Regions from separate parts of the Homo sapiens genome. Here region 1 is linked to region 2. Evidence: fine-mapped expression QTL. A gene starts in region 2. The other region holds a variant in brackets. All regions are shown on one strand. Distances are from middle to middle. Region 1 overlaps SPIDR (scaffold protein involved in DNA repair). Region 2 holds the start of CEBPD (CCAAT enhancer binding protein delta).

Region 1 (5,370 bases), 210 kb after region 2:
CTTCACAGTGAGAACCTAGCAGGGTTCCTAGACATAGAACATAAAACATAAAACAAAAGTGTGCCCCCTCTCTCCAAGACAGGACCCCCTGGAGTGTAACTTGCAAGCTTGTCCACACCGAGCCTCTGGCAATGTGTGAATTAATTGAAGTTTTCTTAGGCTGCTTCTGAGTTCTGCTGGATACGTCCCCTTCAGGTCTTTTGCTCTGGGAAGCTGTGATTCTCTGTTTATTTGCCTGTCATTTGCTCCAATTTGGGGGGCAGCTGTTTGTTCTGTGACAATTCTCTGATGAAGCTAAAAACCATTGATTTTTAGTTTGTTCAACTTTTTCTTATTGTGAAGACAGGAATGACAACTTCCACCTGCCTTATATGCCAGACTAGAAACCAGAAGTCAGAACTCCTGCTTTGGACTGCTTCATTTTGACCTATTTAAACACTGTCTTGTTACAGTTCCTGGATGTTCAGTTGCCACATCCCTGCAGCACCCTGCAGTTAGCTCTGGGAATCTCCTGAACGGTTTCATTTCTGTACATTTGGTTCCTCTAAACACCAGGCAGCTGAATGCACCATCTCCATAAAACAGCCAAGAAGAAGCAGGGTTCATTTTTTTTCTTTTTGCTCGTGGTCTGCCACTATGTGACAGTTACATGGTTTTTAAGGCTTCTTAGCCAATGAAGACTAGATTTTGCTCCCTGTGACCAAAATCCATGCCTTAAATTTTCTGATTTCTCTCTTAGCACCTAGCAAAGTAACAGTAAGGTAGCAGGACTCTGCTCTTTGTTAATAGTAAACTCAAAATTTATTGATGTTTAATCTGGCTCTAATCCAATGGACCAGACCAGAATTAAATAACCAAGAACAGTGAGAAATGCACATGTTGTGATGTCAGCAAGGCCACTTGCTGACCCCAGGCATCATTGCAATGTTCCTTATTTCAGTACTGGATGCACTGCCTCAGTGTGAGGAAGCTGAGCCTGGGAACAGCCCCACAACAGAACATCTTTCCTTTCTGTCCCTTCCGCAAATTCAGAGGCTCTAAGTTTAACTCAGGGGAATACAAGATTCGTAAGGACACATAGGCTGGTGCCACTATATGCTTCTGGATTCCTTCTGATCCACACTATGCTAAGTTTTGCCAGGTATCTTAAGGGGTGGCTGGAACTACACTGAGCAGATTGCATCACATTTTCTACAACTGCAGGGAAAAGGGGTAAGCCCCCCACACTTCCCACAAATCCAGACAGCATGTACACAACCTGGTGTTCTCTCAGGACAACTCAGTAGGCACAGCCAGGTCCAACTAGCCAGCAGTGCTACCACCGTGCCTTGTGATTTTTTTTTTTTTTTTTTTGAGGCAGGGTCTCACTCTGTCTACCCAGGGTGGAGTGCAGTGGCTTCTGGGCTCAAGCGATTCTCCTGCCTGAGCTGCCTGAGTAGTTGAGACTAAAGGCGTATGCCACCACGTCTGGCTAATTTTTGTATTTTTGGTAGAGATGGGGTTTCACCATGTTGGCCAGGCTGGTCTCGAACTCCTGACCTCAGGTGATCCGCCCACCCTGGCCTCCCAAAATGCTGGGATTACAGGCGTGAGCCACCGCGCCCAGCTGTGACCTCTTTTTATAAGTTCTTTCTTCATACAGAAAACTTTGGAAAGAGGGAGAACATAAAATTTTCTAAGTTTTCACCTATGTTGGTTAAAGAAAAAGAAAGTAGGTTATTCAGTTAGTAATGCCAAAGCTAGAACCATAGAAAGAAAGATACTTTTTTTCCTTTTGTTTTCCAGGCTCCTATTCTGGTAAATGGACTATCAGGATTCTCCACAGAATCTTGTGACGACAAGGCAGCAAGCAGCTGCCCTTTGGCACAACATGTAAATGAACTCAGTCACCCCCTGGGTTTTTCCCTCTTCTTTCCCTGCTCTTTAGGAGGACACAGAATCATAGGGAGTAACTAGCTGAAGTTTGCTCTGTACTTTAACAGCAGGCAGGAAGCCAAACTGCAAATACAATGACCAGATTCAGTTTTCAAGCAAACACTGGAACTGAATTCACCCTAGTCCGGGAAGAATGCCTCGGATCAGAACTAGCAGGAAATCCAATTCAAAACAGGGTGTGTCATCCCTAATTCATAGTGTGGCCTTTACACCTTTCATGAAGTCCTTTGGAAATAAAAGCTTCCTTCTGTAAAAGATCTCCCCTAAAAACTACATTTTACTAAATTGTATCAGAAATCTCTTGCAGGAGATATCTTAATTCCCAAGACCAGCACCCTTGGTACAAAGTGTTAGCTCCACTCTTTCTCCTTTGAATACTGAGTATTAAACTTTTAGAATTTATTAATAATTACTTAGTTCTCCCAATTCCCTTCCAACCTCTGAGTGTTCTCTGACATCATGCAGTAGCAACTCCTTTCTTGTTCTCTGGGTCACTTGAATAACTTAATATGAAAATGCTTTGAGACCTTCAGAGAATCAGGACAGTCGCATACTTTGGCCCAGGCACCCGCAAGACGTGCCAGGAGGTTTACGTGCCTGTCTCTCTGCCTCTAGCTGGCTGGGGTTGTCCCACGGCTCTGAGGAGGGACACACGCAAATGCTGAGAGCCTGCAGTTCCTCGGGGGTGGTCAGGAGAGTACAGGACCTGCTGCCCATGGCTGACCTACCAAAATAGTGCTGCGACTATAGGATCCCAGAGGGGCTGCAGTTAGGCATGTGAAACAGTGAGCCACATGCCAAATACACACATTTTAATCTGGATGTACATGGGAGGAGAGTATATGAGAAATGACGAAGCACAGGCTTCCTAAACTGGTTTAGGAGAAGAGGAGGAGGAGATTTCTCATCCACACAATGACAGTACTTTTTATGTTAATTCTTAGTTTGCATAATCTAGTTTCAGGTGGAGAGTCGCCTGATTTACCTAATAAAATACAGGATGCCCAGGTAAATGTAAATTTCAGATAAACAATGAATAATTTTTTTAGCATACATGTGCCTGATAGTTTATCTAAAGTTTACATTTACCTGGCACCCTTTATTTCATTTGGTAACCTAACTCAGATGTCAATTCTAATTAATTCATCTCTAAAATAACTTTTGGTGGTATTTTAGAAGCTACCACACCAGGTATCCTTCCGACACTTCAGGACACTTAATCTGTCATTGTGTTTTTTCATAGGTGTGTGGACAAAACTGCCATCTCCTCACCTCATACGGGAAAACAGAGAGGCCTGCAGTTCTGTGGGAAGACTTCAAAACAGCTCTCAAAAAGTAAAATTGTATCACCAGAGAAACTGGGTTATGTAATGGTGCATACCACACTTCTGTTTTCCTGAGGAAGTTA[G/TTAG]CACTTCTTATTGAGAAGGCTGCGGCCTGATCATGCTGTTATTACCACTAAAAAACAAAAATCTGTGAGGCCCCCAGAGGCTGCCCAGCACTATGTAACAGGGAAAAGAGAGGCAGGCCTGGGTGCAGGGTGGTCGCATCCATGATCCAGCCTGACCCCCATCACCAGCCGGCAGGGAGACAGACTCACACTGAAGATAAAGCAGAGCTGCTGTACTGGCTGGACTTGAGGTGGTTTAAGTTGGCAGCTACATCGAAGGACTTCTGAAAAGCTCAAGTGACAGTTACACCTTTGCACTCTCCACATTCAGCTGGCCTTTTCCCTCAAAACATGGATAATCTTCAAACCTCCCTGAACAGGTGGAAATGCGTCTTTCCTCTAAGCCAAGTTCTCAGTCCACATTAGTCCATACTTGGCTACAGAATTGACGTTTGTGGCCACAATCCTACTAGAAATGACCTTTGGGTAATATCCTTATCTTGTTGATCTAGTTAGGGTCAAGTAAAACGAAATAGGTTTTCAATCAAATACTAAGAAGCTCACAAAATGGAATTTAGGTGAAAACACACCAAAGTAGTATTAAAGTTCAAATTCCAAAAGAAATACTTGCATTAAAAAAGAAAAGCCATGCATGGTGGCTCGCTATGCCTGTAGTCCCAACAATTCGAGGTGGGAGGATTGCCTGAGCCTGGGAGGTCGAGGCTGCAGTGAGCTGAGATTGTGACACTGTACTCCAGCCTGGGGGACAGGGTGAGACCCTCGCTCAAAAAATAAAATAAAATAAAATAAATAAATAAAAAATAGAAAGAAAGAAAGCAAACCACACACACACATACAACAAAAAAAGATCACTTTAAATCTTTAAACTATTCCTTTCAAAACAATGTGACAGAAACATCATCAGGTTACTAGAGATTTCACAAATAATGCATAATAAAGAGCTTTCTCAGAAACAGAGTACTACCACCTAATGAAAAAATAAAACCTATCCAAAACCAAGAATCTTCAGTAAATAAAATGCTTTTAGCATTAAAAACTAATAAGATAGCTTTAAAAACCATGTTTTTAAAAATTGCAACAAATACTTCTTACTTTTAACTGTCTTTTTTAACAGAGCAAAGCAATGGAATATTGTGCATCCCACACAGTGACATTGTGTGATTTTGGGTAGGAACACATTTGAACCCTAACCAACCTTGGCAGGAGGAGAGGGTGAGGGAGTCATTTGACCTGGGGTCATGCTGGTAACCGGGACATAGAGACTTCCTCTTTCCCTCTGAGCTCACAGGCCCTTCCCATTTCCACACTGGCTCGGATCCTTCAGCAGCCTTTCCTGCTGCTGACAACCAAATGGAGAAAATAAATGAATTTTAAAACAGTTATTTTCTTCACAGATTTAGGGAAAGACACCATGGGAGGGAAAACACATGTGGGTAAATACAAAATACAGTTACATATTTATTGTGGATGCTGCAGAAACCCCAGAGTCAAAGCACATGCTCCATTGGGAAGAGTGGCGCACAGGAGGAGAGGCTGACCCCTTCAGTATCACAGTTCTTTTTCTCCTGCTCATTCATGTTTCTTTTTTTCTTTTCTTTTTTTTTTTTTTTTGAGACAGACTCTCGCTCTTGTCGCCCAAGCTGCCAGGCTGGAGTACAGTGGCACGATCTCGGCTCACTGCAATCTCTGTCTCTCAGGTTCAAGCGATTCTCCTGCCTCAGCCTTCCCAGTAGCTGGGATTACAGGCACCTGCCACCATGCATGGCTAATTTTTGTATTTTTAGTAGACACGGGGTTTCACCATGTTGGCCAGGCTGGTCTCGAACTCCTGACCTCAAGTGATCCACCCGCCTCCGCCTCCCCAAGTGCTGGGATTATAGGCATAAGCCATCGTGCCTGGCCTCATTCATATATTTCTAAGAACTAGGAACATATTTCATTAACACAAAACACTCCCCAATCTTGTTGATTAGATTTCAAAACTAACTGGAAGAATTCCAAATGCAAAATGGATCTCTCTTCTAAGC
Region 2 (5,370 bases):
AACTCAACTTAGTGTTAATAAATGTAGCTTTGGGAGGCAGAGGCGGGTGGATCACGAGGACAGAAGAACGAAACCATCCTGGCTAACACGGTGAAACCCGTCTCTACTTAAAATACAAAAAATTAGCCGGGTGTGGTGTCACGGGCCTGTAATCCCAGCTTCTCCGGAGGCTGAGGCAGGAGAATCGCTTGAACCCGGGAAGCGGACGTTGCAGTGAGCTGAGATCGCGCCACTGCACTCAAGCCTGGCGACAGAGCAAGACTCCGTCTCAAAAATAAAGATAAAAATAAAAATAAAATGTAACTATATTGACTATCGGAATCAGTAAATCATCTCACTGAAAATAGTCTCTGAGTTGTTTTTAGGAGGATATGGTTATCCCTTATAAATATTGATTTTGCATTCCCTAAGTGATTAGGGAGGGCTTTAATAGTGTTTCTATGGCTTCTGAAATATATGAGAACAAAACAATTTGTGCTAGAACTTTTTCTGGATGTGCGTAAGTCCACACTCTATGCATTGCTGGATTTCAGTCTTAATAGGTAATTAATTGTGTGACATCATCATTGTGTACCCTCTGAGTAACTCTAAAGAAATATGTTTGTTCTTTAGGAAACCTATTAAATATCCCATAGTGCAACGTTAGAAATGACCTCTGGAACTGACTGCAGAAACTGCACAGCAGTTAGTAGAGCTTGGTGTTCCGACGCAGATCTGGTGAGAGGCCTGCGCAGGAAGAGACTCGACATGGAGCAGGTGTGACTAGCGATAGTGATTTAATGGATTTGGGCCCGACATGGTGGCTCACGCCTGTAATCCCAGCACTTTGGGAGGCTGAGGCCGGCGAATCTCTTAAGCCCAGGAGTTTGAAACCAGCCTGGACAATATTGTGAGATCCCATCTCAATTTTTTTTTTGAGATGGAGTCTCGCTCTGTCGCCCAGGCTGGAGTGCAATGGAACGATCTCGGCTCACTGCAACCTCCGCCTCCCGGGTTCAAGCGATTCTCCTGCCTCAGCCTCCCGAGTAGCTGGGATTACAGGCGCACGCCACTACGCTTGGCTAATTTTTGTATTTTTAGTAGAAATGGGGTTTCACCATGTTGACCAGGCTGGTTTCAAACTCCTGACCTCAAGTGATCCGCCCACCTCAGCCTCCCAAAATGCTGGGATTACCGGCATGAGCCACTGTGCTCGGCTGAAAAAAACCATATTTTTAATTTAAAATAATAAATGGGTCTGACCAGAAATGCCTGCCTCAAATTGCAGGACACATGACAAAGCCCATTCTTACTTAAGACATTTTCAGTGTGCGATGGGTCTACCGGGATGTAACCCCATCGTGAGTCGAGGCCCATCTGCACCCTGCTATAGCTACTGGTAGATCTTACCTGTTTCCCAAAAAGGACCCAACTACTTTAGGTTCAAGGCACTTTTTTGGAATATTTAACAGGGAAAGAGCCTGGAACTAAAAACAGGTCTAACGCAAGATGCCGCCACACGATGGCACTGCTTCCGTAGACCTGGAAGAAACGCGGGCGCGGGAGCTGGCGGCGGACGCCCGGGTCTGCGGGGTCGGGGAGTAGCGTCCGGCCGGAGAGCCCGCACCTCGAGGAGCCGGCGGAGGACGCGGTGTCGTGACCGCGTCTCCCCCATCTGCTCTGCTTTTGGCGACAGCGTCCCGTCGGCCTTTCGGCCAGGACGCAGCAGCCGCGTCTCTGGGCCTCGACCCCCAGGGCCGGCCGGACCCGGGACCTCCGAGGAGAGCAGCGAGAACCGGCCCGGATTCCCCGAGGCGCCCGAGTGCGGTGCGGGCAGCCCTCCCCGCCTGCCAGGCCGCCGCTGTCCCCACGTCTGGTCCCCCACGCCTCTTCCCGCATCTGGTCCCACGGTGGAGGCGCGGGGCGAGGGCCTCACGCGCGTGCCCACGGTCGGGGGGCGTCCTTGGACGCGCGGGTCCTCTCCCACGGGTCTCCACCCCCCGCCCTCCGGCGACAGGAGCCGGCCTGGGACGCGCGCGCTGCGGCCAAGTCCTGGTTTTGATTTCACTCCCAACCCCGAGGAGCGAGGAGGTTCCAAGCCCACAAACAGGAAGAAGAGAAGGCCCTGGAGTGCTGGCAGAGGGAGTGTCATTCCCAGCAGCGCAGCGCAGGCCGGCCCGGGCCGGGGAGGGAGCAGCAGCGCGGGCACCCTCCTGCAACGTGGGCTGGGGGTCCCCAGGGCCGGGGAGGGGGCCCCGGGGAGGAACTGAGAGGGGGCGCGCCCCGGGAAGGCTCGGGGCGGCTCCGGGGGGCTCCCAGGGCGCCCCCGCCCCTTCCCCCGCGGCCCCGGGGCGCCCCCGCGGTGCCGGAGTCGGGGCGGGGCGTGCACGTCAGCCGGGGCTAGAAAAGGCGGCGGGGCTGGGCCCAGCGAGGTGACAGCCTCGCTTGGACGCAGAGCCCGGCCCGACGCCGCCATGAGCGCCGCGCTCTTCAGCCTGGACGGCCCGGCGCGCGGCGCGCCCTGGCCTGCGGAGCCTGCGCCCTTCTACGAACCGGGCCGGGCGGGCAAGCCGGGCCGCGGGGCCGAGCCAGGGGCCCTAGGCGAGCCAGGCGCCGCCGCCCCCGCCATGTACGACGACGAGAGCGCCATCGACTTCAGCGCCTACATCGACTCCATGGCCGCCGTGCCCACCCTGGAGCTGTGCCACGACGAGCTCTTCGCCGACCTCTTCAACAGCAATCACAAGGCGGGCGGCGCGGGGCCCCTGGAGCTTCTTCCCGGCGGCCCCGCGCGCCCCTTGGGCCCGGGCCCTGCCGCTCCCCGCCTGCTCAAGCGCGAGCCCGACTGGGGCGACGGCGACGCGCCCGGCTCGCTGTTGCCCGCGCAGGTGGCCGCGTGCGCACAGACCGTGGTGAGCTTGGCGGCCGCAGGGCAGCCCACCCCGCCCACGTCGCCGGAGCCGCCGCGCAGCAGCCCCAGGCAGACCCCCGCGCCCGGCCCCGCCCGGGAGAAGAGCGCCGGCAAGAGGGGCCCGGACCGCGGCAGCCCCGAGTACCGGCAGCGGCGCGAGCGCAACAACATCGCCGTGCGCAAGAGCCGCGACAAGGCCAAGCGGCGCAACCAGGAGATGCAGCAGAAGTTGGTGGAGCTGTCGGCTGAGAACGAGAAGCTGCACCAGCGCGTGGAGCAGCTCACGCGGGACCTGGCCGGCCTCCGGCAGTTCTTCAAGCAGCTGCCCAGCCCGCCCTTCCTGCCGGCCGCCGGGACAGCAGACTGCCGGTAACGCGCGGCCGGGGCGGGAGAGACTCAGCAACGACCCATACCTCAGACCCGACGGCCCGGAGCGGAGCGCGCCCTGCCCTGGCGCAGCCAGAGCCGCCGGGTGCCCGCTGCAGTTTCTTGGGACATAGGAGCGCAAAGAAGCTACAGCCTGGACTTACCACCACTAAACTGCGAGAGAAGCTAAACGTGTTTATTTTCCCTTAAATTATTTTTGTAATGGTAGCTTTTTCTACATCTTACTCCTGTTGATGCAGCTAAGGTACATTTGTAAAAAGAAAAAAAACCAGACTTTTCAGACAAACCCTTTGTATTGTAGATAAGAGGAAAAGACTGAGCATGCTCACTTTTTTATATTAATTTTTACAGTATTTGTAAGAATAAAGCAGCATTTGAAATCGCCCCTGCTTCCTATATTCGCAGTGACTCCCGCCCGCCCGCCGGTGGCGCAGGACCCGGCTCGGGAAGGGTGCGTTCCGGACCCGCAGCCAGCGAGCACCAGGGAGCCCGGGCGCCAGGTGTGTGTGTGGGGGGGGCGGGGGGATGGGGCGCAGGCCCGAGCTACTCAGGAGAGAGGGTCTGTCGCTTTTAAAACGCATTAAAGGCTCTCTCCTGGCCTTATTTAACTTGCCTAAGCTAGGTGGAGCACGGCTGAGCTCAGGTAAGCTAGCAGCTTTCCAGCAGAAGGTGTTCTCCCGAAGAACGCAGACCTGGGGAAGGGTTGACTTTTTGGGGGCCCCTGCTGAGAACAGTTCAAGAGCTCCCTAACTGTAGAGGCTGCTGGAGGGGCGAGGGGCAGAACCCCGGGCTGAATCATCTCCCGCTTTCCCGGGACTTTGCTTTCACTTTCCTCAGTCTTGTGGACAGAGTCAAGTAGATTTTCAAAAGTGCTCCAGAAAGGCCGGAATAGTCATGTAGTGGATGAAAAGGGCAGTCACAAAACTGCTTAAGACCAGCTGTCTTGCCAGTAATTGCAGTGCTTTAAGATTTAATTAAAAAGCCGCCTGCCTTTAACCCAAGAACACTTGGTATTAGGGCACCATGTCTTGGTCACGGCTGCTACGTGTATCTGATGTAGTTAACCATGGCCTGTCATGATTATATTGCTATAAGGAAGGGAACAAAATCTTTATAGTGTCCAAAGATAATTAATTCTTGGTTTAAATCTTTGCCAGCAAAGCAAATATCCGACTGACTGCTCCTTAGTCTGTGATCTTTGCTCTCCGTGCACATTACCCAGCCTAATTAAAACAGGTGTGTGTGGTGGAGCCAGCTATCCCCACCACCATTCAGCAGAGACACGATCACACCAGTTCAGAGAGCTACACTTTATGGGTAACAGTTTCACCTGTGATACAGTTCCCTAGAACATTTTCCCAAAAGTAGTGAACTGCAAAGTGCTTAGGTTTGACATTTATTGTAGCAGAACAGTAATATCACAGTATGGGACAAAGGTTTACACTTTGCAGGGTATTCTTTGGGGGAATGTTAAATACTGTAATAAAAACATGTTCAATCATGGTAAAATGTTCAACTTGTTAAAATTACAAATGAACAAAAAAAATTTTTTTCTCATATATTGCCTAAATACCAAATGAAGAGCTTAAACTTAAGATTCAATGTGAAAACGAGTAAATATGTTCCTAAATTTGCAGAAAATAAAAGATAAACTGTAGAAAAAGGTATTTTGATTTACAGTTCACAAAACTGTATCTGAACATTTCCCCAGAAAAATCTAAGTTTCATTTCAAGATCGTAAACTACGTTCACTGTGTCCATAGTTAACAAATAACTACCCCAAATCACCACCACCACCACCACCCTTGCAGCCACATTGCAAAGTTCACAGATCCTGCGGCAACCGCTAGTGTTCTGCAGAGGCCCCTCCTGCACTCAGAAGCTCGATTTCCTCCAATCCAATGCAGCTGGTCGGGTGGGCGGTTACGGACTGGACAAAACAATTTAACAACCCCACTTCCTTTCCGAGGACACTCTTCACTTCGTAGCTCTGCAGTGATAAAAGGCACGCTGGTTAAAGCAAACAGCCTGGGACGTACTGTTCCCAACAACACGGAAAACCAGAGAGCCAGAGTGGAAGGCCCTTTCCCCAG

Evidence for each region. PIP is the estimated chance that this variant, and not a neighbour inherited with it, causes the effect.
Region 1: its variant is fine-mapped to the expression of CEBPD in whole blood (TOPMed, PIP above 0.99).

What each region holds. Positions count from the first base shown.
Region 1 is chr8:47,521,757-47,527,126 of GRCh38, reverse strand. The region is part of intron 8 of SPIDR (scaffold protein involved in DNA repair); the gene reads right to left. Among named protein-coding and RNA genes, the nearest start is that of CEBPD, 210 kb to the left of the region's middle. RefSeq lists an enhancer at 2,067-3,040. The variant G/TTAG (reference allele first, on the strand shown) is at 3,344.
Region 2 is chr8:47,735,204-47,740,573 of GRCh38, reverse strand. CEBPD (CCAAT enhancer binding protein delta) reads left to right here and starts at 2,410. Exons shown (of 1, transcript NM_005195.4): 1 at 2,410-3,661. The coding sequence starts at 2,454. The coding sequence ends at 3,263. SPIDR (scaffold protein involved in DNA repair) reads right to left here. Exons shown (of 20, transcript NM_001080394.4): 20 at 4,268-5,267. The coding sequence ends at 5,124. RefSeq lists silencers at 1,582-2,051, 2,142-2,221, 2,262-2,371, 2,862-3,051 and an enhancer at 2,448-3,386.